Regions from separate parts of the Homo sapiens genome. Here regions 2 and 3 are each linked to region 1. The links come from fine-mapping of genetic effects on gene expression. A gene starts in region 1. Each other region holds a variant in brackets. All regions are shown on one strand. Distances are from middle to middle.

Region 1 (10,588 bases):
TGATGATGTTCATCTCATGAGGTTCTTGTGAAGATTAAATGAGTTAAAAAATTTAAGGCACTTAGAACAACCCTTAGAATATTCTAAGTATTATTATTATTTTTCTTTCTGACATGAAACAATCAAACAAACTAATCTCCAAGTGTATTAGTAAAAATACACACTTTGGGCAATAATCCTATAAATTGTGAGGAATGACATTTCTAAGGGCCCTTGTCCTCTGAAATGCAATAAGCATATGACTGTTAAAGAGACGGATTTCTAGAATATAGAGGACAGTTGAGTCAGCTTTCTCAACATTTGGACATTTATTTGGATACTGACATTTTGATTCCATGATATACTGACATATTTCACAACACAAAAGGGCAATCTAACATTTGTTCTTCTTTAACAAAAAGAAAATGTGTCTGAAAGACTGTTATCCCCATTTTTGTGCCCCGAATGGTCGCTCAGAACGTTCATACCTCCATCATTTGCTCAGTTCTGCCCCAAATGGCAAGATCATTCTTTTTTTTATCTGAATCATGAGGGATTCATCTAGGTACATGTGTCCAGTCTGTAGCTCTGTGCTTGCATCCTTGCTGTACCTAATCCCCATCTGGTGGCTCAGTTCTAATACCTGGCTTTCACCTCGTAACCACACTTAGCCTCATAGGCCCCTACCACCTCTTCCACATTTGCAGAGCACTTACTATGAGCTAGGCACTATTTTAAGTATTTTACATTTACTAAACGTTCTAATCCTACAACACTCTTATCAGTAGAAACTATTGTTATCCCCAATTGACAGTGAGGAAACTCAGCAACAGGAAAGCTAACTAAGTTTTCTCAATTTCATGCAGCTGGTAAGTAGCAGAGCTGAGATTCAAACTCAGGTCATCTGACTGCAGAGTCAACACTCTCAACCCCTGCACAATATGATTTCAATAGTTAAGACCTGGGGTTTTGGTCTCTGCTACTGAGTTATTCTTCCAGCAACAAATCTTACTTTAATATCTATATAGTTCTTCATAGTTCAAAATGATTTCCTCTCCATGACTATATTTGTTCCTGTGGCCACTATATGAGATAGAATGAGTCTGAGGAAACTGTGGTTCACAGAGAGTGCACAGGGGGCAGTGAATGGTAGAATCAAAACTTAAACCTGGCTCTTTGGCTATGTTCTTTTCACTACCCCAATGATTCTGGGGCTTAGAAAAAGAAGATATCCATGAGGTGTGGACTTTCTGATGGAGATGGGGCCTGACCAAAACCTTGAATTGTAGGTAGCTCTTAGACTGAGGGAAAAAAGGATGAGAAAATAGAGAATAAAAGAAAAAAATAACAGAAAAGGGAGATGAGAGAGGATGGCTTCTAGATACATTATAATTAAAGAAATGAATGGACTTGGTAGTGGTTTGGATATTGAGAGCAAAGGAAAAGTTAGAAGCAAAATTGACTCCAAGATTTCAAATGTGAGAAACCAAGAGATCATTAATGCCATTCACAGAAACAAATGAAATGAAAGGGGAAGTGGTTTGACATAAAAGCTGTGAGTTTGGCTACAATCATGATGAATGTCGAGTGACCCTTGGACATACAAGTGGGAAAATGTATAGCAGATGGAAAAGATAAGATGTGGAAATGGAAGTCTTGGAGGTATCCACTTAGAGGTGATATTTAAAACTAAGGGTTGATAAGAAGTTATAGAGAAAGGCAAAACGTAATAGGTTATAGGCTAAATAAATGCTAAACCTTTGAGGGAAACCCAAACTTAAGGAAGAGAAAAGGAAAAATAGACAAGAAGGGAAGTGGTAGAAAAGCAGTTGAATAAATAGTATAGAGTCATGGACAAGAAGGAAAGAGAAAATTTAAGAAGTAGGAATTGATCATGTGTGTCACATAGAGCCAAGGGGATGAATAAAATGAGAATTTGGAAAAGTATTCCTTATAGCCCTTATCACACTTGTAATGAATTATTTGGGTGAGTTAACACCCTTCCTAACTAGACTGGAGATATATAAAGGCAGACTTAAGTGTTCCCTACTGTAACTTCAGTGCTCAGCAATGCCTGATGCATAGCTGTCACTAAATAAATATTTATTGAATGGATGAATGAATACATAAATAAATGAATGTACTTGAATTTCCTAGCAGCACTACAGGTGACCCTTGGAAGTACAGTGTCAATAAAGTGATGAAGATTGATTTTATGTCATAGGGGAATTTGAAAGAAAGATTTTAAAAGAGAAAGTGAGGCAGTAGGGTATGTTTTATTAATCACTTCTTAGAGAAATGTTTTTGTTAAAAGGAGAGAGAGACCAGATCAAGTGAATTTTTTATCCCAGTACACTACATGTTTATTATATTTTGTTCCTCTAGGAGCTCCTCCCTATTTTAGATAATCTTTCAGAACCTAAGGTAACCACAGCGGTTGCTAACTCTGCAAGTAACAGAAGCACCATCTGCTTTTTTGCTGTCTTCAGTAAAATCAAAAGTCCATGGGCTAAGCAAGATGGAAGATGTAGAGAAACAGAGGTCAAAGGAAATGATGATACTCCCCACAGAAAGAGATAACCAGGAATGGAACGAGGTTGGAGAGAAGTTTTGTGAAATCATGGAAAATGTGTGAATGTATATAGAGGGGTGAGAGAGAAAGAGGATGAGAGACCACAGACAAGTAAGATATGAATGTACAAAAGCATATTTACAAGTAGATTTTAAGTAGAATGTATTAAAGATGATTAGCTAAGTGCTTACGCAGGATGGCAAAATAGTCATAAGATACATCATCATATAATAGAGCTTAAGTAAAACGAACTGCTCATTTTACATATTAAAGCTACATTTCCTTTTCCTTCCCTTAACATACTAAATAATAATAAGGAAGTAATTTCAACAAAAATACTAAATGGGCCTCCAAAAGAAAAGAGGTAGAAGCTCAATAATTTTATTCACTAAACCTATCAGAAGACTTTAACAAATCTGAATAAATAGAAGGATAACATAGCTAATACCCAAACTTAAAATAGCAAAGAATTTCAGGAAATCATAAATACATAGAAAAAGCATGATTCAACAACTAAAAGAGCAGTAAGACATTTTCTCAGTTATTAGTTGCCCACATGTAAATATGCATGTATATGTGGGTATGTACATATATATACTGAGGGATGCAAGGACCAATTTAAGGATTTCACTAGAGTCCAAACAAATGGCTTCATGCATTTAAGACCTAGGGTATGAATTGTAACACTTTTGTGTGTAAGCTGTTGTCCAAATAACATATAAACAACTTATTACAAAATGAAAAAATTATATACTTAATTCCTGTGTTTAAAATACTTTTTAAGGAGGCTACTACTGAAGTAGTACTTCTAAATGCATTATTACATGTAAACAATATTTTATACTATTTTGAATGCTATAAATATATAACTCCTGTTTTCTCCAGGCATATGCTTTTCTCCAGGCATACACATATACTTGGAGCAAAGAGAAGTTATATATTAATAGTTGTAAAATTACGTTTTTCATTTAAATGAGGAAGACAGTATTGGTAATTAAAACAATCTACATTAAGGAGAAATTTTTTAAACCCTGATGCATCTTTTCAGAGTATATTAATGTTCACAGTTAATATCGCATTTCTGTAAGCTGTTACAGTATCATATTCATGTTGAAATTATTCCAGGTTTTTCAGACTTTATTAATCCTTCTACTGAATTTATATCCATACTGGATATTTGTCCATATCAAAAATGGAACTGAATGTAAAAACAATTAAATAATTCCAAATGAAACATCTAAATTTTCTAATAAATGAAAGAAATTCAGAGCAAAAGGACAATCTATGTTATATAGAGATGTGAGAGGTTTATATAGAGAGGTGTGAGAGATTTATAGCAAAATGATGCAACACTTCTGCTGTGAATTTGATTTTTTTATGTCACTAGAATGCATATTTGTTCCTGGAGGCACTCACTCTTCAGTAGAACCTAGTGCAATGCTTCACTTCATAGATAGAATCAAGTGTTAATAACAAAAAGATACTTATATTTCTCTCCTCAATCCATTAAACTCATAGCTACCAATGGCCAAAATGTCCCTTCTGTACATATTTCTCCCTTTTTTACTGTAAAATACAATATCAAATGGTGGAAGGAGCTGTTTTCTTCCTGACCAGCAAATCCCACTACTCCCCTACCACACACAAAATACAGAAATTAAGAAATCAGATATCACACTGGAGATCCCTAAACGCATTAGTCTTACCTTAATCTGAAGGTTAGAATGTTTTTATGGGCTTATTTTTCTCTCAAACACACAAACTGTAGAATGCTGGACTACTTGACCCTTGTGAACTACTTGGAGCAGGAACTTGAAAAACCAGCCTCTCATATTCCCACAATCTATTTACACATTGAACACACCCAGTAGCACAGAGTAATGTTTATCTGTTGCAGACAGCTATTTCAAGAAGAAGGCAGTATCTCTAAAGCTGAGCTTTCAAAAAGGAATGTCTCTGTTGATCAGCAGGGGAAAGGTAACAGGTTTCATCTAAAGCACATTTTAAACATTTTTTGACATGAGGTATTTTTTACACCAGTGTTTTAAAGGTGATTCACTCTTTTAATATTCTTCTACCCCTGAAAATCTCTATTCTTAAAAAACCTGGGAGAAACGTGATAACAATGAACACATATGTGCCAGGCACTGTTGTAAGTGCTTTACATATATCCTCTCCAATAATTCTCCAAATGTGTTAGGTGTATAATATTATTATCCCCATATTACAAATGAACAAACTAAGTAGTCTGCCCACAGTCACCCAGTTAGTAAGTACTGGAGTCAAAAGTTAAATCCAGGCACTCCATAACCATAGTCCAGGTATCTAATCATAGCACTGTGCTATGTATGTATGACTTTTAGAAGACAAATGTGTAACAGTATGTGATTGCTCAGCTGAACATTAGAGAATGAGTGAGGTTTTCTCAGTGCTTGTATGGTACTGAATCTTTAGTTGAAGTAAGTGAAATTTTTGTTAAGATCACTTCTGCCAAGGTGATTACCCATTTATGTTACCATAGCCAGGTCCCTTTTAGCTACAGTGGGGAACCCCAAAGGTGGTGTCCTGGAGAATCGAAAACGTGAGTCTAGCTTGAAGTACCAAGAGAGTTATTACTTTCTTATGTTAAAAAACTCATACAAAAGAAGTCAATACAACACCTTTAAAAAGTTTAGAGATACATGTTTTGTTCCATTTTTTTCAGATTGGATGATTACTTTTGATCTGTCTTCAAGCTCATTTGATGCTAGCCATCTCCAAACTAATGTGAGCCCATCTAGTGTGTTATTAATTTCAGTTACTATAATTTTTTAAGCTCTAAAATTTCCATGTGGTTATTTTTATAGTTTCCATTTCTCTGCTGAAATTCACTATCTGTACATTTATAAAGATCATATTTTCCTTTCATTCTTTGAACCTATTTTCTGTTTGTTCTTTGAATACATAATAATTGATTTAGTCTTTTTCTATGAAGTTTAACAACTGGACATTTTTGGGTCTGTTTCTACTGATTTTATGACAATAGGTGATATTTTCTTGTTTCTTTGCATGTTGAATTTTTTTATTGCATATTGGACAATGGGGATCATATAGTGTAAAGACTCTGCTATCTCCCTCTGAGGAGTATTAATATTTGTTCTATTAATATTGGCATTTCCATAGAATTGGTTTGGTTTTGCTAATGTAGTTATGCAGAAAGTCTAAGGTCCTTTCCAAGCCTGATGAATTTGGGAGATCAACCTACAAATTCTGTCTCCCCTGCAGATCTTGTAAGGGCTGAGTTTTAGGATTTTTTATTTGTAATTTTTATGGAAAAATAGTAGGTGTATATATTTATGAGTTACAGAGATATTTTGATACAGGCTTGCAATATATAAAGATCACATCAGGGTAAATGGGGTATCCATAGCCTCAAGCAATTATCCTTTGTGTTACAAACAATACAATCATACTGTCTTCATTATTTTAAAATGCACAATTAAATTATTATTTTTACTATAGTCACCCTGTTGTACTAAGAAATACTATGTCTTATTCATTCTTTCTATTTTTGTACCCATTAATCCTCCCTACTTCCCCCCAGCACCTCACTACCCTTCCCAGCCTCTGGTAACCATATTTCTACTCTCTATCTCCATGAGTTCAATTATTTTCATTTTCAGCTCCCACAAGTAAGTGAGAATATGCAAAATTTTTTTTCTGTGTCTGGCTTATTTGACTTAACATAATGACCTTCAGTTCCATCCATGTTGTTGCAAACGACAGAATCTCATTCTTCTTTATAGATGGTAGCACTCTATTGTGTATATGTACCACAGTTTCTTTATCCATTCATCTGTTGATGGACATTTATATTGCTTCCAAATTTTGTCTATTGTAAATAGTGCTGCAGTAAACATGGGAGTGCAGATATCTCTTGAATATACTGATTTCCTTTCTTTTGGGTATATACTCAGGAGTGGGATTGCTGGATCATATGGTAGCTCTATTTTGAATTTTTTGAGGAACCTACAAACGGTTCTCCATGCGATTGTACTATTTAAATCTAAGACCTCAAACTATGAAACAACAAAAACAAAACATTGGGAAACCTCTCTAGCACATTTGACTGGGCAAGGATTTATTGAGTAATACCCCACAAGCACAGGCAACCAAAACAAACAGTGACAAATGGGATCACATCAAGTTAAGAAGCTCCTGCATGGCAAGGAAACAATCAACAAAGTGAAGAGCCAACCTACAGAGCAGGAGAAAATATTTGCAAACTACCAATCTGACAAGGGATTAATAACCAGAATATATAAGGAGCTCGAATAACTCTATAGGGAAAAATATAATGATCTGATTTAAAAACTGGCAGGGGATCTCAATAGACATTTCTCAAAAGAAGACATACAAATGGCAAAAAGGCATATGAAAAGGTGCTAAATATCAGTGATCATCAGAGAAATGCAAATCAAAACTACAATGAGATGTCATCTTACTCCAGTTAAAATGGCTTATACCCAAAAGAGAAGCAATAACAAATGCTGGTGAGGATTTGGAGAAAAGGGAACACTTGTACACTGTTGGTGTGAATACAAATTAGTACAACCACTCTAGAGAACAGTTTGAAGGTTCCTTTAAAAACTCAAAATATGAACTTAAAGTAGTTTTTTCCAATTCTGTGAAGAAAGTCATTGGTAGCTTGATGGGGATGGCATTGAATCTATAAATTACCTTGGGCAATATGGACATTTTCACGATATATATTCTTCCTACCCATGAGCATGGAATGTTCTTCCATTTGTTTGTATCCTCTTTTATTTCATTGAGCAGTGGTTTGTAGTTCTCCTTGAAGAGGTCCTTCACGTCCCTTGTAAGTTGGATTCCTAGGTATTTTATTCTCTTTGAAGCAATTGTGAATGGGAGTTCACTCAGGATTTGGCTCTCTGTTTGTCTGTTATTGGTGTATAAAAATGCTTGTGATTTTTGTACATTGATTTTGTATCCTGAGACTTTGCTGAAGTTGCCTATCAGCTTAAGGAGATTGCCAAGTCAATCCTAAGCCAAAAGAACAACACTGGAGGTATCACGCTACCTGACTTCAAACTATACTACAAGGCTACAGTAACCAAAACAGCATGGTACTGGTACCAAAACAGACATATAGACCAATGGAACAGAACAGAGCCCTCAGAAATAATACCGCATATCTACAACTATCTGATCTTTGACAAACCTGAGAAAAACAAGCAATGGGGAAAGGATTCCCTATTTGATAAATGGTGCTGGGAAAACTGGCTAGCCATATGTAGAAAGCTGAAACTGGATCCCTTCCTTGCACCTTATACAAAAATTAATTCAAGATGGATTAAAGACTTAAATGTTAGACCTAAAACCATAAAAACCCTAGAAGAAAAACTAGGCAATACCATTCAGGACATAGGCATGGGCAAGGACTTCATGTCTAAAACACCAAAAGCAATGGCAACAAAAGACAAAATTGACAAATGGGATCTCATTAAACTAAAGAGTTTCTGCACAGCAAAAGAAAACTACCATCAGAGTGAACAGGCAACCTACAGAATGGGAGAAAATTTTTGCAATCTACTCATCTGACAAAGGGCTAATATCCAGAATCTACAATGAACTCAAACAAATTTACAAGAAAAAAGACAAACAACCCCATCAAAAAGTGGGCAAAGGATATGAACAGACACGTCTCAAAAGAAGACATTTATGCAGCCAAAAGACAGATGAAAAAATGCTCATCATCACTGGCCATCACAGAAATGCAAATCAAAACCACAATGAGATACCATCTCACACCAGTTAGAATGGCGATCATCCAAAAGTCAGGAAACAACAGGTGCTGGAGAGGATGTGGAGAAATAGGAACACTTTTACACTGTTGGTGGGACTGTTAACTAGTTCAACCATTGTGGAAGTCAGTGTGGCGATTCCTCAGGGATCTAGAGTAGAAATACCATTTGACCCAGCCATCCCATTACTGGATATATACCCAAAGGATTATAAATCATGCTGCTATAAAGACACATGCACACGTATGTTTATTGCAGCACTATTCACAATAGCAAAGACTTGGAACCAACCCAACTGTCCAACAATGTTAGACTGGATTAAGAAAATGTGGCACATATACACCATGGAATACTATGCAGCCATAAAAACCAATGAGTTGATGTCCTTTGTAGGGACATGGATGAAGCTGGAAACCATCATTCTCAGCAAACTATTGCAAGGACAAAAAACCAAACACCACATGTTCTCACTCATAGGTGGGAATTGAACAATGAGAACACATGGACACAGGAAGGGGAACATCACACTCTGGGGACTGTTGTGGGGTGGGGGGAGTGGGGAGGGATAGCATTAGGAGATATACCTAATGTTAAATGAAGAGTTAATGGGTGCAGCACACCAGCATGGCACATGTATACATATGTAACAAACCTGCACATTGTGCACATGTACCCTAAAACTTAAAGTATAGTAAAAAATATATATATTTAAAAAAACTCAAAATAGAGCTACTATATGATCCAACAATCCCACTGCTCGGTATATAACTAAAAGAAAGGAAATCAGTATATCCAAGAGATATCTGCACTCCCATATTTATTGCAGCACCATTTATAATAGACAAGATTTGAAAACAACCTATATGTCCATCAACAGATGGATAGAGAAAATGTGGTACATATACACAATGGAGCACTACCAAGCCATAAAGAAGAATGAGATCCTATCATTTGCAACAACATGGAAGAAACTGGAGGTCATTATGTTAAGTGAAATAGGCCAGGCACAGAAAGACAAATTTCACATGTTCTCACATATTTGTGGGAACTAAAAATTGAAATATTTGAACTCGTGAGAACAGAGGGTAGAAAGATGTTTACCAGAGGCCAGGAAGGGTAGTAGGGTGCTGGAGGGGAAGTTGGGAGGGTTAATGGGTGCAAAAAATAGAAAGAATAAATAAGACATTAATTCTTTCTAGTTTTTCTATGCTAGTATTTGCTAGCACAACAGTGACTATAGTCCAAAATAATTTAATTGTACATTTTAAATTAACAAAGAAACTATAACTGGATTGTTTATAACACAAAGGATAAATGCTTGAGGTCATGGATACCCCATTTACCCTGATGTGATGATTACGTATTGAAGACCTGCATCAAAATATCTCATGTTGATATGGGAGGAGGGCAGGGAAGTGCTGGGTAGGGGAGGGTGTGGTCTGTGGCTAGGGCTCCACCCCTGGGCCTGTGACCAGGGACCTAGGTGAGGACAGACATTTTTTCCTGCCCAAATGTTGCATTTCCCAAGACCACGCTGGCCCACCACACCCCTATCCTGTGCTTATAAAAACCCCAAGATCTTCGCGGGCAGAGAAACAAGCAGCTGGACATCAAGAGGAGCACGCTGGCAGAGCGCACCGACAGGCACTGGCAGATGCTGGCAGGTTGGCAGGCCATTGACCAGCAAAACAATGCGGAGTTCGGTTGGGGCGGTCGGAGAAGAGCCCGGCCACTGAGCGGGCCTGGATCCAGGGGAAAACCACGTTCCCACTCCATCTCCCTTCTGGCTTCGCTATCTGCTGAGAGCTACTTCCACTCAATAAAACCTCGCACTCGTTCTCCAAGCCCATGTGTGATCCGATTCTTCCAGTACACCAAGGCAAGAAACCCTGGGATACAGAAAGCCCTCTGTCCTTGCGATAAGGCAGTGGGTCTAATTGAGCTGACTAACACGAGCTACCTACAGATGGCTAAACTGAAAGAGCATACTGTAACACATGCCTACTGAGGCTTCATCTGTAAACATTCACCTTTAGATACCGCCATGGGGTCAGAGCCCCACAACCTACCAGTCTGCATGCTCCCGCTAGGGGTTTGAGCAGCAGGGCACTGAAGAAGTGAGCCACACGTCCATCACATGCCCTGTGAGGGGGACAAGGGAACTTTTCCCATTTCTATGTAACCCATAAATACATACACCTACTATGTACCCATAAAATTTTTCAAAAAATAG
Region 2 (10,588 bases), 70 kb before region 1:
TGTGTATCTCCCACTGATAAGGTCACAGCATAACAAAATACTCTGGTGAATTCATGTTTCCTCTCCTGTTTTATCATGTGTCAGTTGCTCCCTGGAATTAAAATTCACTTTTCTCAGGCCACCATGGTTTTGCGAATTGCTTTAGGCTGTTAGCATTTGCTACAGCTTGTGGCTTTGATTGCCCACCCCTCGCTCCTCCTAAGGAGGGCTGAGCTTACCCAAAGGAGATTAAAATGGAAAAAAAGGAATTAGCAGTGACAAAGGAGGGAAAGGCACAGGAAAGAGGTGAAAGTAATTTTCCTTTGGAGGACAATGCTCACAGCCTTTATCCTGTTGAGTCACCGAACGATCATTATAGAATAAATGTACATACTTTCAGAGATATGCTATACATTTGAACATTTTTTTAAGCCTGGTAAGGAATGGAGTTTGCTAATAGCATTAGCAACTAGCTATGTAATGTTTTATCTAATACGCAAAACAGACCATTGTTGACTTTGTGGATGTGGTCCTGACTCAGAGTTAAACACTCCCACCTTGCTATATTCAAATTTCTAGTAAGAGGCTGCCACCTAATTGGCACCTTAATTGCAAAGATGTCAATGAAAATTACATTCAGGACAGGAGAATAATTTTATTTCTGATGAAAAAGAAGGCATCATTTAGTGATAGAATGGGTTTAATAAACTCACTTTACTAAAATAATAGATATGAGGAATGGATGATTCTTTAAATTCATGATAATATCCAAAGTGCCATATTTCCTGGACAGAGAGAGAAAAAGAGAGGGGCAGTGCTTGAAATGAGGACAAGAACTAGCTAAGGGCTGGTTTGAATGGTGTGGTCTCTGCTTTTGGTGGATCACAGCCAAAGCAAAGCAGCTTGTGAAGCTTCACAGAGACTGTGACCATCAGTCCCAGATCCACTGGAGAGCAATTAGGAATAACTGGATGAAACTGGTGTGCGTGGAGTGGAGGAGTGGGAGGGCAGAAAGATGAGAACCTAGTTGGTTACGAGACCAAACAAGGTCCCACCGTCTGTTCACATTCCATGTAGATATTGCCATATTCTCCAATGACATGATAGAAACGCTACTGAGAAACAGCATCATTCTTCCTCCATTTTTACTGAACAAAATGCATTTTAGGTTCAAAGTTCTAGTTTTACTCTGTTTTTAAAGATAACATTGTTGGCATCTCCCTCAGATTCCTTTTACCAGCTGTGCATGCTCCTCCCTAGATCCTGAGTTCTTTTCTGCTAATGGATGTCACCTGCCACCTTCAGAGACCTTCCCTTTAGCCCTGGAGCTGGAGGCCTAGAAATGCCCTGGAGTTTGTCTCCCCCTCACCCCTATAGAAGAGTTGTCAGATAAAATACAGAACTCGCAGTTAAACTTGAATTTCAGATAAAAAAATTAATTTTAAGTATAAGGATGTCCCAAATATTGCATGAAACATACTTATACTAAAAAACAGTTGTTAGTCTCAACTATACATACCTGGGCATCCTGTATCTTCACTTGCTAAGTCTAGAGACTCTATTCAAGGGAGGCCATGGTCAATGACTGACTGGTATAGGAGTGCAATGGTCCAGCTCCTCAATGTGGAAAAAGCTCAGGGATATAGTTTATGCTCTAGAGTCTCCTACAGGATCAGGCTGAGTCCTCAGACCACACTGGAGCTAGCACCATTGTTTAGCTTCTTCCTCTTCTCTATTCTGTCTCTCCTACTCCCTTCCTGGTTTCTCTTGGAATCACTTGATTAATAATAAATCACTTGCTTATAAATCCTTGTCTAGGGGTCTGTTTCTGGGAGAGCATGACTTAAGTTAGAGATCTTGTAAATCATACCACAGTGACAGCTCATCACAACTTTGTAGGGATTAGAAATCACTACCTTGAATAATATTGTTTATTAACTACAGCTTACATTTATTTTCCTAAAAATATTCTTTGTCTCATGTGTCAAGTCCCTAGCAACCGGTGAACATCCATTTGACAAGCTCTTCTGAGAGGCTGCTAGGGCTTCTTTAATCTATTCATACTTTCCCTTGCTTTGAAACTACTGAAAAGAAAGCCAACTGCACATCTGATAAAACATCATTTACACTCTTATATGATGTGAGCCTTAAAAAGGAATGCCGAAGCCCAGCTGCTCCATGAAAATACCAATGATCCATGAAAAAATATGCATTGTAAGGGAAAAAGGGGAAATATTAGTAAGCTGGGTCAGGCAATAGACCAAAGAGACTGGGATCTTACAGTCTCTTCAGATGATGGAAGTTAAGAAAAGATGGGCTACCTCCTGCCTCAATTTTCTAAGGACTCATTTTGAAATAATGGAACTCATCTCACTGTGGCAGTCCATTAATGAGTCATCACTGTGATAAATGCACGTTCAAGGGAAAGGACATTTTGCTCTATTGATCTCCTGAGCATCTTTACTCACTTTCTTAGTGGCAAAATATTGTTCTTAACATGCTTAAGCCAAAGCACTCCTGGCTACTTCTGACTATGTGTAAGCCATTTCAGGTATTTACAATTTAAGATAAAGTCTACTTAGGGACTTTCTTTCAGCTTACAAAAAGAACAAGAAGCTCCTGGGTCAATATACCAGTACTTGGTGATGCATGTCCATATGGCTTTATAGTTTTGGTTATTTATGCCTAGTAGTAGATAATACACAAAGAGTAAACTGAGGCAGATAGAGTCCATTACGGTATAAGCACTGATACTGGAGACCATGCTCCCTATTATTCTTGTTGAGTAACTGTAAGACATATAACTTAAAATAGCACAATCTAATTTTGTTAGGCTGGCAGCCTTTTTTTTTTCTTTAACAAGGAACATTGGCCGGGTGCGGTGGCTCACGCCTGTAATCCCAGCACTTTGGGAGGCCGAGGCGGGTGGATCATGAGGTCAGGAGATCAAGACTGTCCTGGCTAACACGGTGAAACTCCGTCTCTACTAAAAATACAAAAAATTAGCTGGGCGTGGTGGTGGGCACCTGTAGTTCCAGCTACTCGGGAGGCTGAGGCAGGAGAATGGTGTGAACCCAGGAGGCTGAGGTTGCAGTGAGCCGAGATTGCACCACTGCACTCCAGCCCGGGAGACAGAGCGAGACTCCATCTCAAAAAAAAAAAACAAAAACAAAAAACAAGGAACATTGTCTTTCCTCTTTTTGTATATATTGCCTTTCTTAAATGCTAGCCTTAAGTGTTAGCCAAGGTGGCTCATCCATGGAGTCCCAGGAGGCTGAGCAAAAAGAACACCAAATTAGTTGCTTACTGTCTCTAAATAATTTTGACCACTACTATCTCAGAGTCAGGAGTCCAACTATGAAAAACAAAAATGAGATTTATTTATTCATTTTTTTTTGAGACAAGGTCTTGCTCAGTCACCCATGCTGGAGTGCAGTGGCATGATCATAGCTCACTGTAACCTCAAATTCCTGGGCTCAAGCAATCTTCCTGCCTTAGCCTTCTAAAGCATTGGGATTATAGATGTGAGCCACTGTGCCCAGCCAAAATGAGATGTTTATAGAAAGTTTTGTGGGACACAGCATGAAGCTACCTCAATGGAAGACAAATGAAACTATTTCAAGGATAAAGGCAACCATAGCTTAACAGTTTGTAATCATAAAAGGGAATATATCAGCATTCTTGAAAGTTTGGGAAATACTGAATACAGTATTAATATTTTGATAATGGGTGATAAATGACTTTACGCTTCCTTGTAATTTTTTTTTTCTGTATGGTTTTACATAAAGTAACGCTTGCATGCAGGACTGTTATAGGGACAAAAGAAACAGCTATGGAGAGTCACCATGAAAAAATAACCCAATAGTCAAAATAGTGTCCCCTCTAAGGAAATTTTTTGGTCTGCATTCTAAAATGGATTACAGGGAAGAATGCAATTCTGCTTGCATTCTTCCTAACCTAAGGAGAAAAGAAAATCTGCTA[C/G]TTGTACTATCTGGCTTGCAAAATTACCCCAGACACAAGCAAACGAAAGGGAGTTAACAATTGGACAAACCAGTGAAATATGAAGGTGGATATTTTTTTCTCATTGCTAGCTTTGATAATACACTAATCATGAAAATAAGTCTTGACTATGCTCCAATAGGATACAGAAAATCACGCCTGATATAAAATGACTATGCTCTGGGCTATCCTTTGTGTTTCTCATTATTTTTCTTGACAAGTGATAGATCTGTGGATAGGACATTCTCAATTGGCTCCACTGATAATCTCCTCCAGTTAGAAGAGGTGGAACTAGAAAGGAAGTGAAATTTATGAAAAAGTCTCTGAGGAAATTCAAATTTAAAATTATTAATAATTTTTTAAAAGCTGCAAGGAATGTATTTGACACTCAGAGGTTTCTTTTTTTCAGGAGCTTAAATAGAAAAAGCTCAAGAAGTCAATGAAAAACATTTACTTGCCCTGTACATTTCCATTTGAACTGCAGCCCCAAGTGCCAGAATATAAAGTTTCATCCCTGCAGGTGACATAGGCAATTCCAATAGCTGTAATTCTAGAAGTAGGGTACGTGCTTTCCATATCAACTAAAAAATATCTTCCTGAATTTTCACATTATGTGTTAGGAGTTCTCCAAGTGGTAATATTTCACAGATACCTAAAATCCCCCTATGAATGGGAATATATCAACCTTAACCTCAGGCTACATCATTGCTCAATCTGTATGACTCTTACCTGTCTGAACCAGGAGGTGATTTTAAACTCCGAAAATGTTGACCGTCTAAGTCCAAGCTATAGCTCCGCCCAGTGTCAGTTTTGGGAGTTATGATTTCTCCTCTGGTTGCCGATCTGAACTTGCTAAGAAGAAATCTGAAATTATATATATGTATTTAAAATTAGATAAGAAAGAAAGCATTTAAAAATATCATTTCAAGAATACAATTTCTAGTACTTTTAATAATAAAGGATTCTTCAATAAAGCAGCCTTAGGGCTGAGAGGTTCTGGAGAGTTCCCAGTGCCTCTGCAATACAGTATCAAGGGTGATAATGGGGAAGGTTACGCCGTTCTCTCAAGACCGTACCACTTGCTGGTAGGTCACTACTAAGCAAAAGACTGCCTATTCTGAGAACTCAGCACTGTCACCTGAGAAAGAAGATGCATTCCCTGAGTTGGGCCTGTTTGCAGGAATAGTGAGAATAGAGAGTTTGAACTCCCTTTGCTCAGAGAGGGAAGCCAGGATGATCCTCTTGGACAAACTGAGGTAGCTGCTTATTAGACTGCAGCTCCATGAGAGCAGTGACTCTGCCTTTCTTGTTCCTTGACAGATTTCCAGAGCCTAGAATGATGCCTGGCTTATACTGGAATCCAACCAACTCTTGTGGAACGAATGACTAAACTCATCTTTATTATCTTCCATGACATTTATTCTTGTGCCTCATGTTGGATAAAATCTGATTACCTTCCAATTTCACTAAATTATTTGGGGTTTAAGCAGAAACAGCCTTTTAGGAACTTAAAGTCCTGATCCAGGATACCATGTGCCCAAAACATGGGTGTTTCCAAATGTACTTGAATAAGAAAATCAAAGCTATATTCCTTTTTGTAATGGCATTGGGAGATACACTTCATTTACATTCTACAGTTTTCTAGAGGAAAACATGGATTCCAAAGGTACTGGCACAATCTTAATAGAATCTGCCATGTTGTCTCTGTTTCAAAGACTCCTGGAATAGTGTCATTGTCAAAGCATCTGAAGCTTTAATCTACTGGAAAATTACATTTTTTCTTTGGTGAGAATAGCACTTAATATAATGTCAAGGTATGCTGCTCTGAGAACCACCTCATGCATGTCCTCTACTTAAGGTATCTCCTCTGCCTGGAGTCACTCTTCCTCCGTTTTGTGATCCTGAACCCCATTTATCTCCTCCTCAAATCTCATGTACAATTTGATGTCTTTCTGGATGACTCCTATACTCAACTGGCACTTATTGTCCACCTGCTTATTTATATGTACTCAGTAATTTATAACCTTAGGATATCTCTTGTGGTGAACACCCTCCTCTGTTTTAGAAAGGCTTTTAGGAAGCTCACATTGCCATCTTAAATTTTCCTGCAATTCTTTTATACTTAGTAACTTTTCAGGTGTGTACCTTTTCTCCCCAAATAGATGTTATATTCCTTGATGACTGAGAACAATCAGAATCTAAGGCTCAGCCCAGTGCTACAATGGTTTCAATGATTCAGAATTTGCATAATTGATTGTGATGGTGAGTTAGTTACTGTCTCCTATCTCCAAGTCCACTATTCTGTAACCTACTCTATGATGCCTGAGCTGGGGTCTGCAAATGACAACTCCTAGAGGCATTTGTGGGCTCTGAGTTACTTATTCAATCAAGCCACTGATTGTTTTTGATGAGTCAGGTGCCATGCTAGATACTGCAACACAGAAGCAAAGAAACCACTGGTCTACCACTAAAGAAGCTTACAATTAAGTGTGTGCATGTGTGTGTGTGTGTGTGTGTGTGTGTGTTGAGGGGGTGTCAGAGTGCAATATGATTGGTGGTGCAAAGGCACAAAGCATTGTGGGTGACCCAAAGAGTGATAAATGAACTCAAGATGGTAGGAAGGATCAATACATAGGATAGGATATACAGGATACTCTAGGCTATCTTTCCAACTCATCTCTGCTCATCAATGAAAACATGGTTTGTCATGAGTGCTTGAGTTAGATGACATTTAGATTGTATTCCTACTGACAGCCCAAGATTCTAAAAGAACCCTAGACATTTTGTACAGCCAGATAAATCTTCTAACACTAATGCCCTCTCACTTTGCATTCTACTGAGAGAATGAAGCAATGCTGTCTGAAAAGGACCATAAAGTTAGGCAGGCATGGTGGCATACAACTTGTAGTACCAGCTACTTGGGAGGCCAAGGCAAGAGGATTGCTTGAGCCCAGGAGTTCAAGGCCAGCTCAGGCAACATAATGAGACCCCATCTCAATAATAATAAAAAAACAGAAAGGACCATAAAATGACTTGGTGCACATTAGAACTCTCACTACTTCAGTCACAAAAACTGGCCAATAGCTGCATGAGAAACAAAAACTGAAAAATGCAGTTTCCTTTTGGTCCTTATAGCCTATATTTTGGGATCCACTTTTCTCCCTTGAAAGAAACTTCTTGCTCCCTTATGTACCTCCCATTCCTATTCTCAGTACTTGGCATCCATATTCTGTATTCATTTACTGAACTAAGTTACTGTGGTGGCCAAATGTGACTTTTTTTCTTAAGGAAGCCTGAATTTTAAATAGGGAATATGGTGCTTTAAGCTCAATTAATAAATCTTTATTTTGGATAAAATTATATATCAGCACACAGGTTGGAGGGGAGGAGTATTGACATTGTACAACAGAAATTGTTGTCACCTCTTTATAGACTGATCCTGGCATGAAACTTTCTACTTATAAGTAATGGGAACCATATAGTGCAAGACTGGATATGTCAAATGAAAGGAAAACTCTTCTGTGCTTAGGTCAGACAGGACTTTTATTTACTTATTGAAAATTATTAAAACTGCATTTCCTGAGGAGAATGATAAGAAAGTGTTACTTTGTTTGAGTCTCTGACCTCCTCTGGGTCATTGAAGTGACATCAAACTTGAAAAATTAAGGAGTCTTCATTTCAGAGGTGTCTGGAATAAAGATCAAAAATTCCCTCAGAAAGACCATGTCTTACCCCTTTCTCTTGGGCCCATCATGGCTGGCCTTCTTCCCAGCAACAGGTGAAGTGTCTGACTTTTCTGCATCCTGGCGGGTTTGCTCTTGGCTCTGTACTTCTTCAGCTCCTCATTAACAAACAATCAGAAGAGAAATTTACATACAAAATGGCCAGAAATGAGAGCAAATTTATATTCTGCTTTCACTTTCCCAGATTAGCTCAGGGCAAGGAAGTCTATAATAATTGGCAATGCCATTCCCATCCCAAGTTTTTCTGTCACACAGTTAGTTCTAATTTGTTGAGTGTTCTAGAGTTAACTGAAGACAAAGATCCTGAACTCATCTGTGGGAGGTTTACTGAGATAACCTTCCTAGGGATGACTGCATCAGCCTTCTGTTGATATTTTTAGAGCAGGGGAACATGGTCTCCTAAGATCTCCAAATCCCTGGAGACTGAGTTCTAGCATGAGGTTGTAGAAATGATGTCCTAATTTCTGGGCATATAAGCCACACTTCCTGGGAGGGTGGGCATCTGTGCAAATATATTGTGACTTGAGGAACTGCCTACATTCTGGAAGGTACTGGGGTTTGAGTGGAAGAAGAGGCCATGGCTGATTGCCTAATTCTAACTGTACTCCACACCATCTCTCTGTAGTATCGGATCTGTGTGACCTATGTGGAAAAGCCTTTCCTTGCTAGTGCCACACCCAGAAGTACCACTGGAATCAGTTCCAAGCCTTCTCGCCATATGTGCCAGACTTAAATACAAGGGCACTTGTCTCCTCTGGATGAAAGATGAGATAAGCCTAGAAACAGGCTGAAAGATGTTTCTTCCGCTTTTACTACACCATATACGAGAAACATGCTCCCAATCACAAGGTTTACTCCATCTTTAATTAACTAAATTGTAATTTGAATGCACCAAAAGGCACTGTCAAGGTAAAGTGTTATTTTCATTTGGTGCCAGTATTCATTCAGTAAGACTATGCATTTCAAGCCATTTAGCATCTCTGGCTCCTTCCCACCAAATGCCATTGACTCACCAGTCACTGTGACAACCAGAAATGCCCCCCTTGCCTTTCCAAATGCTCCCATTTTGAGGGAGGGAGACAAGGTACATATTATCAATCTTTGATTGAGAACCACTGGATTTAAAAAGTAACATTGAAAGGAAATCGGAAATAAATATTGTTGAAAAATCAAGGATTGCTTTCACAATGTGAATCATTTAATTCATCTGTTTTATGTTACTTTAAGTGTTTAGTAAAATATTGGATGCATTCAGAAAGAGAACTGTCTATGATGGAGACAAATGGTTTCTTTGAAAATCTTAGTGGGTGAGATATATGGAAAATCATTGTGAATTTTGTTTTCTACTGACTTCTTCTTGTCTTGTATGAATTACGTATCTAGATTTCATGCTACCAAGTTGTGAAATGCCCTAAGGGATTCAAGAAACTCATTTATGCTGATTAACTACATAACATAGAGAAGTTATTTAGTTAGCCAAATGGAGATGAAAACAGTTGTGAAACCACATAATTGCTTTAATTACCTGGACTTCTTCTTAAAATGGACTGTCGGACAACATCAGTGCCGAGAACATTGACTTGCTTGAAACGTTTTGCCTTTTCTTCAAAAAACCACTCACCAGTTATAATCCTTAGCTGCCTACTCAAGGGAAAAGGGAAGAGCATTGAAATTCAATTATTTAGCCACATAATTAACTCTCAAAAATCCCTAATAAACTGAAAACAGCAAATTATTTATAAAGTTTATCTCAATCTCTGGAGTATTTTATGGTGATAATAATAGCCAGTATTAATTGAATGTTTACTATCTGCTAGGTACTTGCTAATTACGGTTCATACTTCATATATTTTTATCCACATAGCAACCTTATGTAAACACTATTATCCTAATGTTATAGATGAGGAAATTGGGACTTAGAGCAATAAAATAATGTGCCTCATATCACACAGCTGGTAAGTAGCAGAGCCAGGATCCCATCCCAATAAGTCTGACCTGGGGCTCAAGTTCTTAACCACTGCATTAGTGGATAAGTGATCTTCAATGCAAGCAATAGGGATCAAGTAAAGGTTTGGAATGAAAAAGAGGTCATGATCAGACTCTGTGATCAGACTTATGATCAGATCTCTGTGATGAAAAGATTCTTTGATATAACATGTACAGTGGGTTAGACTGATGAGAGAATAGGATAAAGAGACAGGTTGGCCATTGTAATAGTCCAGGAGACAGATGATGGCACCCATGCTAGGGCAATGGTAAGACTAAAAGAGGAGTAATAAATTCAGATCATAGGTGGTGGAAGTGCTTGCCTGGATTTGGTAATAAGTTCAATGTTAAAGATGGGAAAGAAGGATCCTTGAATAGTCACACCCATCTTTTAAACCCTACCTGCAATGGCTACATGAAATCACCCCCATCTTCCCTCCTGAAATGCTTATAATCCTCTTCTTTGTCTGTACTTCTCCCATTACTTATAGCGTCCTTCAGTATTATTTCTACCCTCTCATTTCGACTGGGTTGTAAATGCTCTGAGAACTGATTTCTGTCTGCTTCATCTTTTGTTTTCCATAGTACCTACAAGAAAGTCTTTCACAGACCACGATCTCAATTAATGTTTTTCAAATGAATGACTACTCTCTCATAATTTTAACACATTACCCTTCTTTTCATATTCTCATAGTTCTTATTATCATCAGTGAAATGAGGGCAGGGACCTTGGCTGTGTTGTTCACCATTTCCAGGAGCAGTAACTGGCACTCAGGAAATATTTGTGGAATGAATTAGAATACCTGGAATTCAACCTATAGTAGTTATGCTGCTATAAAAGTCCTTTTCTGGCATATCACAAGGATTTTAACAGCTGTAGA
Region 3 (10,588 bases), 37 kb before region 1:
TGTGGCTGAAAGGGGGCAATGTAGAGCTCAGACCACGGCTTCAGAGGGTGCAAGCCCCAAGCCTTTGCAGCTTCTATGTGGTATTGAACCTGCAAGTGCACAGAAGTCAAGAATTGGGGTTTGGGAACCTTTGCATAGATTTCAGAGGATGTACTGAAATGCCTGGATGCCTAGGCAAAAGTTTGCTGGAGGGGCAGGGCCCTCATGGAGAACCTCAACTAGGGCAGTATGGAAGGGAAATGTGGGGATGGAGCCCCACACAGAGTCCCTACTGGGGCACCACCTAGTGAAGCTGTGAGAAGAGGGCCACTGTCCTCCAGACCGCAGAACAGTAGATCTACTGACAGCTTACACTGTGTGCCTAGGAAAGCCACAGACACTCAACATCAGCCCGTGAAAGCAGCCAGGAGGGAGGCTGTACCCTGCAAAACTACAAGGGTGGAGCTGCCCAAGACCATGGGAACCCACCTCTTGCATCAGCGTGCGTGACCTGGATGTGAGACATGGAGTGAAAGGAGATCATTTTGGAGCTTTAAGATTTGACTGCCCCCCTGGATTTCAGACTTGCATGGGGCTTATAACCCCTTCATTTTGGCCAATCTCTCCCATTTGGAATGGCTGTATTTACCTAATGCCTGTACCCCATTGTATCTAGGAAGTAACTAACTTGCTTTTGATTTTACAGGCTCATAGATGGGAGGGACTTGCCTTGTCTCAGATGAGACTTTGGACTGCAGACTTTTGAGTTAATGCTGAAATGAGTTAAGACTTTGGGAGACTGTTGGGAAGGCATGATTGGTTTTGAAATGTGAGGACATGAGATTTGGGAAGGGCAAGAGGCAGAATGATATGGTTTGGCTCTGTCCCCACCCAAGTTTCATCTTGAATTGTAGTTCCCATAATTCCCATGTGTTGTGGGAGGGACCTGGTGGGAAATAATTGAATCATTTGGGTGGGTCTTTCCCATGCTATTCTCATGATAGTGAATAAGTCTCATGAGATCTGATGCTTTTATAAAGGGAATTTTCCCTGCACAAGTTCTCTTCTCCTGTCTGCCACCATGTGAGACGTGCCTCTCACCTTCTGCCTTGATTGTGAGGCCTCCCCAGCCATGTGGAACTGTGAGTCCATTAAACCTTTTTCTTTTGTAAATTGCCCAGTCTTGGGTATGTCTTTATCAGCAGCATGAAAACGAACTAATACACATGTCATACCATTGCTTTGACAACAACCCATGAAAAATACATTATGATTCCCATTTTATAGACAGGAAAGTGGAATCTCCGAGAGGTAACTTGTGGGTCACAGGGCTATTAAATAAGGAGGTCAGGATTCAGACCCTGAATTTTACATTCCAAAATCTGCACTCTTCCCACACACCAGTATCCTCCCACTGGCTCTCAATATATTAAAATATTTTTGCTCAGAAAGGACTCCGTATTTATTCATGACTGTTGTTTCTTTCCTAGCTGTGCAAAGCCATGCTGAGCACACTCAAAGTTAAGCCTCAGTAAACATGGAGGGTTTCTTCCGCCCGCCCAGCTTCTTTCAACATATGGCATCTGCCCAAACTGGATCTTATCACAAAGTCTCTCATGACAAATATTCCCCAAGAGAGTCATTCTTCAACAAGCATGACTCTATCTTAATACATTTTGTATAACTTTTGATTAGTTTTCAAATCAAAGGCTATTAAAAAGAATCACAACTCTCTGAGAACTGGGAAAAAGTTATGCCTGGATAAAAAGCTGCTTAAGAGAAAGTAACAAGAAGAAGGAGTAAAAGAACACTTGTTTAGATAAAGAAGTCTTGTGACTTGTGCCAATTTCATGTTTACAAATAGTCTCAAGGAAAGAGGGCATTGTGAAGTCTTCATATCTGCAGAAGAAACTTCCTGATATTAAAAAGCTTGGCTCATAGGAATATACCGGAAAATCTCACAAAACCATGTCAACTGACAGGCAATTGACAAAAAACAAAACAAAACAAAACAAAAAACCCAAATCCAAAAAATACTGAAAACAACGGAGCAATAATGCTGAAAAGTAACAGTTTTAGGGAAAATAATTAAAACCACAGAAATACGAGGAAGAACTTAACCAATCCCTTATAACCTAAGAGAATCAATGACTTATTACAGATTTTCCAGAAACATTAAATGTGCTCATATATGCAAAGGGACAATGACTCAAGCATTCATTCTGAATTCTTTTTAAAAAGGACAATGGAGACAAAACAGCAAACATTATCTGTCTCTGTAAAGTCATGATGATGGTGACCTCTGCCAAATTTTGCCTGACTTCTCACCCTTGCTTAGATTCTTCTCCTTTCCTGTGTTGCTTTCCCTACTAGTAGTTTATGGTTTCTCTTTAATAAATCACTTGCACACAAATCATGAGTTCAAGGTCTACCTCTGGGGGAATCCAACCTAAGACAGGGATCTTATAAATAATATGACAAAAACAGCTCGTTACAACTCTAAAGGAGTTAGGAATCACTGCAATTTGATACCTTGCTGTTTATTCACTATAGTCTTATCATAGCAGAAATTTATCTCATACGTAATTAGCAAACCAAGTCTCCCACATGGAACTATCTTAAAATAACTATTGTCTCAATTTCCTGGCCCATTAAGAAACAAGAATGTGTTTTGCTAATCTGAAACCCAAAGAATACCTTGCTCGAGTATTAAAAACATCAGAAAGTCTTGTTATCAATATGATAAATTACTCAGAAAAAAACAGAGATGGAGATAGAATCAGTACAGCAAGAAGTAGGAAAGCTGCATTTCTTTAAAAAACAACCAAGATAAAATGCTGGGCTTCTTAAAATATTTGGTATCACAATGCAATGATAGAATTGACTTGATGGAAGAAAATTGGGCATTCATACAAAAAAACTGATACTTTAGAGAGAACATGTTGCTCATGAAAAATTCTTTAAAACCAATTCTGCTGCTGAATATGGACACATACTAGAGGGTTTCCATTTTAGTTTTTATAAATGTATAACTGAAGTTTATTTCTAGAATGACTCTAAATTGAATTTGTGCAAACTAAATTATTTTAAATGTGGTGGGGAAGGGGTTATATGTTCAGCAAAGGCAGTTATCAGTACTTACTTTTTCCCATTTTACCTTTTTAGGTGATACTTATGGGGATTCACATTTTCACAGATAAAGGTTATTGCAAAACACATTTCGAGCAGTTTCCCTAGTTGTCAGTATCAGTACATGATACAAGAAATGTTGTCACCATTTCTTTGAAATTTGTTGAATATGAATATAAATGTTTCCTTTATGTGTTGTTCTTTCCTTAAATGCTTCACTGAAAACCATCACTGGCAGTTAATTACAAACTTTCAGATTCTACGAAAGGAAGGTGAGATTTGTGATAAACAATAAACAATCTGATTCACAAGATGCATGGTCTTAATTGAATCAATTTTCTCAGATTGCCGGTTTTTAAAATTAAGGAAATATTATTCAAAATATGAATCACAATATAAGAGGATTTAAGAATGAGAATGTTCATGGAAATAAGAATAAATAGTTAAGAAACACGTTGCACATTCATGTTATATGGAAAAATCTTATGTTATGAAATCTTATCCAGCCAATAAAAATGTTTACAAATAATTTTTAATGACATGAAAAATGTTCATGAAATAATGCAAAGCAAAAATAAAGAATAAAATTTACATATATAGTATGTATATGTAAATTTCATGCAATTTCCAGCTATATGAAAATATGTATATATATATGTATATATATATATATATATATATATATATACATACATACATACATAAAAGTTACAGGAGGGAAATTCAACACAAATGGAGACTATTTACCTCTGGGAAGTGGAATTCTATGTGAGACTTTAATGTTCATATTATATGGTTATCTAATTTTCTATAATAAGCCCATTGATTCTATTAATGAAAATATGTACCAGACAATATTAAATGTTTAAGCAGATTGAGGTTTATGATATTTTATACAGTATGTATATGTAAATTTCATGCAATTTCCAACTATATGAAAATTGCATATATATATGTGTATATATATACACATAAAAGTGACAGGAAGGAAATTCAACACAAATGGAGACTATTCACCTCTGGAAAGTGGAATTCTATGTGAGACTTTAATGTTCATATTATATGGTTATGTAATTTTCTGTAATAAGCCCATTGATTCTATAATGAAAATATGTATCAGAAGATATTAAATGTTTAAGTGGATTGAGGTTTATGGTATTTTAAAAGTTGCAGACATTGATGCCCTTTATAGATCCTAGCACAATACTGAGATTAAAAACTTTAAAAAATTGCTTGCTGTGTAAGAATTTTATTAATTTCTTTGCATTAAATATTTTCATTATGCTTAATTACTCTGCAATAAAAGAACAATTATAAAAATTATGAAATGCATGTTAGCCTAATCTTATTATAAATTTAAATTGGTTAAACCATAACTTCTATTAACATAGGAACATTCTTATAAGATTACTGTTGATATAAAATGGTCACTTGCCTGAAATCTAAAATATTAGTGGTGACATTTTTATTAGTGAAGTTTTCACTTATATCATTTTCTTAGGAATAAAATACCTATTTCTCCAAGGATATAGTTGATATTAGATATTCCCTTATGAGCTGACTTACCTTTGAGGGGATGGGTCTTCTTTACTCCCCCTTCCAGCCCCAACATTCAGCCAGGTTCTGGATTACATGGGCTTTATTGTTCTGTTTCTGCAATTTGCATTGAAAGGGAATGGTAGTTTCTTGGGATGTGAGTGCCAACTAACCCCTGCTGCCTAGAGACATGACCTCTATACCAATTCTGGCTAGAGACAATACACAAGGAAGGGAAAGGGTAGTAAAATGGGAATATGGGGAAGAGTAAAAAATATACAGAGGATCCTTGAACAACATGGGTTTGAACTGCCCAGGTTCATCTATATGTGGATTTTTAAAAAATAAACAAAGTTGGATCTCCATAACCTTGAGTTCTGCATTTGCAACCAAATGAAGATTGAAAACACAGTATTTGTGGAATATGAAACCCACATTTACAGTGGGCCAACTCTCCCTATACACAAGTTCCACAAGGCCAACTTTAGCCTTGAGTATGTGTGGCTTTTGGTATACACCCGGGCCCTGAAACCAATCCCCAGCCTATACTGAGTCTCTCTTTATATAGACTCTCTCCACTTATATATGTAGAGAGAAAACCTATCTCTATATATATTTCTATATATAGTCTAGGTATTTGAAATAATATATATCTTATATGAATATAATATAAACACGTTAATAATTTGAAATAATATAGATCTCTATATAGAGACATATGTAGATACAGATAATAGATATAGTCTCAGGTAACAATCTTACTTATGACTATGGTGATCTATTATTTCAAACCCCCAAGAAAATGGTCTGAAATAGCTAGAAGAGAATAATTAGAATGTTTCTAGCATAAGGAAAAGATAAATACTTAAGGTGATGGATATCACAACTACACTGATTTGATCTTTACAAATTATATAAATGTATGAAATTATAACATGTACCCTGAAAATATGTACATCTACTATGTGTCAATAAAATAAAATGTAAAAAAATATTAAAAATGATCTGGCAAGTTTATTTATTTGGACAATCCAATGTTTAACATGTCTCTGAATATCAGGTATTTGTGGCCCTGTGCCTATGGTGCACCTTACAAGTAACGCTTCCTCGGAGAAAAATGCTCTAGAATCAAAATTAAAGTTAGTTTCCCTAAATGTAATTATATATTGAAATTGGTAAGGTCTTTGCTAGGAAAACGTCCAAGGTTTAAGGCAGATCTGAATATTTTTGTTCATTTTTCTGTGACTCATTAAGCATTTGAGTTCCATTAGGGAGCCAGTATGTTCATGCTGGGAGTTTCTGTTAATCCGTTAAGAAGCTTTGTGGCAATTCTATTAGGATTAAACCAAAGTGTTTACCAAACTAGAAGTCCAGTCCAACAGTTCTCCTGGTGTTTTATGGGGACAATGAGTCTTTAGGCTTTTGAGAAGGTCAAACTAATTTTGCTCTTAGTGGTAGAGTGATAAGATTTGGAAAAACAAACAAATGATCAAACATTTATAGTGTATTAAAAGGGTATTATTGCTTGGCGCTTAGACTCCCTGACTTCCAGGCTGAATGTATAATTCTTGAAATCACTTCAAATCCATTTGAACCAAATATTGAACTTATCTGCAGGATTCCAAATAAGCAATTTGAATGCACGCTCCCCTCCTGTTTCTCCTTCCTTCTCTTCTCCTAGCACTGAAA[T/A]GACAAAATCAGTCACATTAAGAGAAAACCATAAGGTGAATGGGAGTTACTAGGCTGGGGTCTGTGGTCTCTTGGAGATATTAAGTTCTGGCTTATTTAGTGGCGCATTTCAACTGAGCCAGCTTTACACAAGAAACCAAAATACATTTGCTGGCGAGGATGCAGAGGAAAAGGAACTTTCATACACTGTTGGTGAAAATGTAAATTAGTACAACCACTATAGAGAACAGTTTGGCAGTTCCTCAAGAAACTACAAATTGATCTACCATATGATCCAGCAATCCCACTCCTAGGTATATACCCAAAAAAAGGAAGCCAGTATATTGAAGAGATATCTGCACTCCTATGCTTGTTGCAGCACTGTTCACAATAGCCAAGATTTGGAAGCAGCCATCAACAGATGAATGGATAAACAAAACGTGGTACATATACACAATGGTGTACTATTCAGCCATAAAAAAGAGTGTAATCCAGTCATTTGCAACAACATGGATGGTCTGGAGATCACTATGTTAAGTGAAATAAGCCTGGTACAGAAAGACAAACTTCGCATGTTCTCACTTATTTGTGGGATTTAAAAATCAAATCAATTGAACTCCTGGACATAGATAGTAGAAGGATGGTTGCCAGAGGCTGGAAAGGGTAGTGTGGGGCTCGGGTCGGGGGGGGGATGGTTAATGAGTTAAAAAAATAGAAAGTATGAATAAGACCTACTATTTGATAGCACAGTGTGGTGACTATAGTCAATAATAACTTAATAATATATTTTAAAGTAAAGAATTTATTTGGATTATTTGTAACTCAAGGGATAAACACTTGAGGAGATGGATACCCCATTCTCCATGATGTGTTTGTTTCACATGGCATGCCTGTATCAAAACATCTCATGTATCCCATAAATATATACACCTACTATGTACCCACAAATATTTAAAACTTTTTTTTTTTTTTGAGATGGAGTCTCGCTCTGTCGCCCAGGTTGGAGTGCAGTGGTGCGACCTCGGCTCACTGCAACCTCCACCTCCCAGGTTCAAGCGATTCTCCTGCCTCAGCCTCCCAGTAGCTGGGACTACAGGCGCATGCCACCACGCCCGGGTAATTTTTTGTATTTTTAGTAGGGATGGGGTTTTACCGTGTTAGCCAGGATGGTCTCGATCTCCTGACCTCATGATCTGCCCGCCTTGGTCTCCCAAAGTGCTGGGATTACAGGCGTGAGCCACCACGCCTGGCCTAAAACATTTTTTAAAAAATAAAAAAAATTTTTTTTGAGAAAAAATTTGTTTAAAAAATTCACTGCTAGAGCTGAATAAAACTTTGATTTGGATAGAAAGAAAGGAGAAATGTTATGTTGTAAGGCAACCAATAGAGTTTACCACTGAGGCAAGCCCAAGATTAGGTGCCAAAGAAAACATGTGCAGATATGTTTTCATGTATGGTGGTCAAATGGAAATGATGTACCCTTAGTGAGAATAAAGCTCACAATATACTGCTGAAATGAATATTCACTAATAAGTTGAGGATTTTTAAGTACAAGTCAATACCACAAAGTAGATATTTAACAGTATTTGTTTTTAGGTGTGAGAGATCAAGTAGAGTAAAAATTTGTTAATGAGATTTTTTTGGAGTAGATATTATGACCCACGTACATGTTAGTCTGAGTTCTTTTGAAGTAAATGAAAAGCAATCTAAGGTACAAAATCAAAATAATCAACAATGATTTCCATTTTGTGCTTCGAAACTGTCAGTATTTTTATCCATTTGCAATAATTGTTGATAGCTCAATTTTATTTGCAACATTTCTGCTTTTTCTTCATTGCAGTAAAGCCGTCAATAAATTTGAGTGACTTGCTCTCCATAGAGAACCTTAAAAATATTCTTACCCTCTAACAGTGAAAACCTGTGTCTCGCTATCTCCTACCACTCCTTCCTGCTTAGTCTGAAGGAGAAGAATGTATACAAATATATTTCAGCCTCTTGAATGAACTTAAAATGCAATGGTAGTAGACAGATGCCTATTCCCCAGCTGATGATTTATGCCTGGAGGTAATTATCAGGCTTGCCATGTGCCTTCTGGGTATGGAGCACCTTTACGAGTCCCCAAAGACCAGTCCCACCTTAATCAATGCCACACTTTAGTGGGTATGTGGACTGTGAAGCACATTTGGGTGTCAGGCCTAAAATATTGATTCAGTACAATTTTTACGCTTTCTCCGTCTTCTACATTTTTATCTCAAAGGACAAGCTATTCAAACAAATAAACACACAAACGAACAATAAATCCACTGCCTCCCAAACTCCACTTTACTAACTTTTCAGATAAGTTTATTCTTTGTAATCTTTTTCAGTCTAAAAAAAATTTTGGTTTCCATTTCCTTCTGAAACTGATTAGTACAGTCTGAAGGTGGCTTTGTGGCTCATGGTAAACAGCCAAAACATAGTTGACCTATATTTGCCAATGTGAAAAGTCCTTTTCACATTTCAAAGGCAAGCACAAACGTTCACCTTTTCTGTGAAACCATTGCTTCAGTTTCTATCTTACTTGTAATTAATTACTTCTTCCTTTAGACTCCCCCCAAAATATCCATTTGTACCTCTATAGCATGATGAAAACTATTGTAATAGCTAGCACCAAAGTTTACTGTTGTAATAAAATCTGTTACCCATCTAAATTTCTTGTATTGATGGTTTTGGAGGATATCAAGGAAAAAGGACTAAGTTCTCTGGCCTGGCAAAGAAAAGAGTAAGGAATAGCCATAAGTGGTGAGATGCAAGGAGAGAGGAGAGTTCAACAGAAGCGGGGGTACAGAGTCAGGATGAGCTATACAATTCACAAAAGTGTGGGAACGGGGGCTATAGCCAGCTTTATATAAATTCCTGAGACAGTTAATTATTTGTATCAACTTAACTGGACCACTGGGAGCCCAGATATTTTGTTAAACATTATTTCTGGATGTTTCTGTGAGGGTGTTTCTGTATGAGATTAATATTTGAATTAGTAGACTGAGTAAAGTAGGTTGCCCTCCCCAATATGGATGTACCTCGTCTAACCCGCTGAAGGTCTGAATAGAGTAAAAAGCTGAGTAAGAATGAATTTTCTCTCCCTGTCTTCAGGCTGGGACATCAGTTTTCCCTTGCTACTGACTGCCAGACATGGATTGGAACTTATTGCATCAGCTCTCCCGGTTCTCAGCCTTTGGACTCAGATTCAAATTATACCATCATCTCTCCTAGGTCTGAACTTCTCAGCCTCCATAATCATATGAGCCAATTCTTTATAATAAATATTTTTATCTATCTATCTATCTATCTATCTATCTATCTATCTATCTATCTATCAGAAAAATGTTTGCAGAATTTAATTGCCATGCAGACCCACTGCGCTAAAGTTAAGGTACCCTGAACTGATTTAGGTTGTACTTAAATTCATAATAAAATGGCTATTCAGAGGAGATAAAGGGAGAAAAGCCAACAGAAAGTTATATTATCTGACCAAGATGCTTAATCTTGGGCTTCTTTCTTTAGCTTGGACTTTTTTCTTTACCAGTATGTAAACCACAATGACTGTGATAAAAATTGTTGGGAAGATCATAGCTTGTAAATCAAATGAACCAAAATTCTTTATTTTAATGCTCACCTTGCAGACTTATTATATTTCCCCTGAAACGAACTTTACTAAATAGTAATAGCTTTGGTAATACAAACTTCATAGTGTCTCAGACTGGGTTTTCTAGAAGCGAATTCTGCTATGTAGATTTGTGTGCAAGCGACTTATGTAGTGCTCTCAAGAGAAATCTATAAGGGAGTAAGGGAGGCAGGAGAAGGCAGGGAGAGGGGCTAAGCAAGGGTGTGATTTTTAGGTGAAGTCCAGCCTCAGCATCATCCCACGGGAAGCTCTGGAGCTTAAGTTGCATTGCAGAGTCTGTTCTGCCTTGAGGCAATGGATTTCTGTACCCGTCAACCATTGGCTTTGGGCTACCCAGTTAACACTCAAGTTTACCTGGCACTTGTGTCTCTTTAATCCTATGGGAAACTCCAGTCACCCGAAGGTAATTTTGTACTTCAAGTCCTTAGAATAAAGTGCATGAAAACTAGGAGGTGAGAGGGACTCCAGGGGATCTGAGTAGAGCACTGATAGTGTCTACTGCAACTAGCAAATCAAGGGCACCACAAACCAACTATAGGGCTAATGATTATAACCAACAATTTTTGAGTGCTTACTGTATGCTGGCATTGCTCTAAGCTGTTTGTAATATTA

Direction of the effects. Alleles are on the strand shown, and positions count from the first base shown. SD is a standard deviation of normalised expression in the study named.
For the expression in adrenal gland of the gene that starts at base 4,373 in region 1, allele C in region 2 goes with a higher level than allele G (moderate effect, 0.40 SD a copy in GTEx).
For the expression in caudate of the gene that starts at base 4,373 in region 1, T is the low allele of the variant in region 3 and A is the other (small effect, 0.18 SD a copy in GTEx).

The links. PIP is the estimated chance that this variant, and not a neighbour inherited with it, causes the effect.
Region 2: its variant is the best candidate, but not a certain one, in a credible set for the expression of SYTL5 in adrenal gland (GTEx, PIP 0.81).
Region 3: its variant is the best candidate, but not a certain one, in a credible set for the expression of SYTL5 in caudate (GTEx, PIP 0.80).

The regions. Positions count from the first base shown.
Region 1 is chrX:38,000,338-38,010,925 of GRCh38, reverse strand. It overlaps SYTL5 (synaptotagmin like 5), which reads right to left and starts at 4,373. Exons shown (of 17, transcript NM_138780.3): 1 at 4,258-4,373.
Region 2 is chrX:38,070,821-38,081,408 of GRCh38, reverse strand. SYTL5 (synaptotagmin like 5) reads right to left here. Exons shown (of 17, transcript NM_138780.3): 4 at 9,247-9,362; 5 at 7,711-7,819; 6 at 4,708-4,842. Among named protein-coding and RNA genes, the nearest start is that of MIR548AJ2, 52 kb to the right of the region's middle. The variant C/G (reference allele first, on the strand shown) is at 3,961.
Region 3 is chrX:38,036,870-38,047,457 of GRCh38, reverse strand. The region is part of intron 2 of SYTL5 (synaptotagmin like 5); the gene reads right to left. Among named protein-coding and RNA genes, the nearest start is that of MIR548AJ2, 18 kb to the right of the region's middle. The variant T/A (reference allele first, on the strand shown) is at 6,334.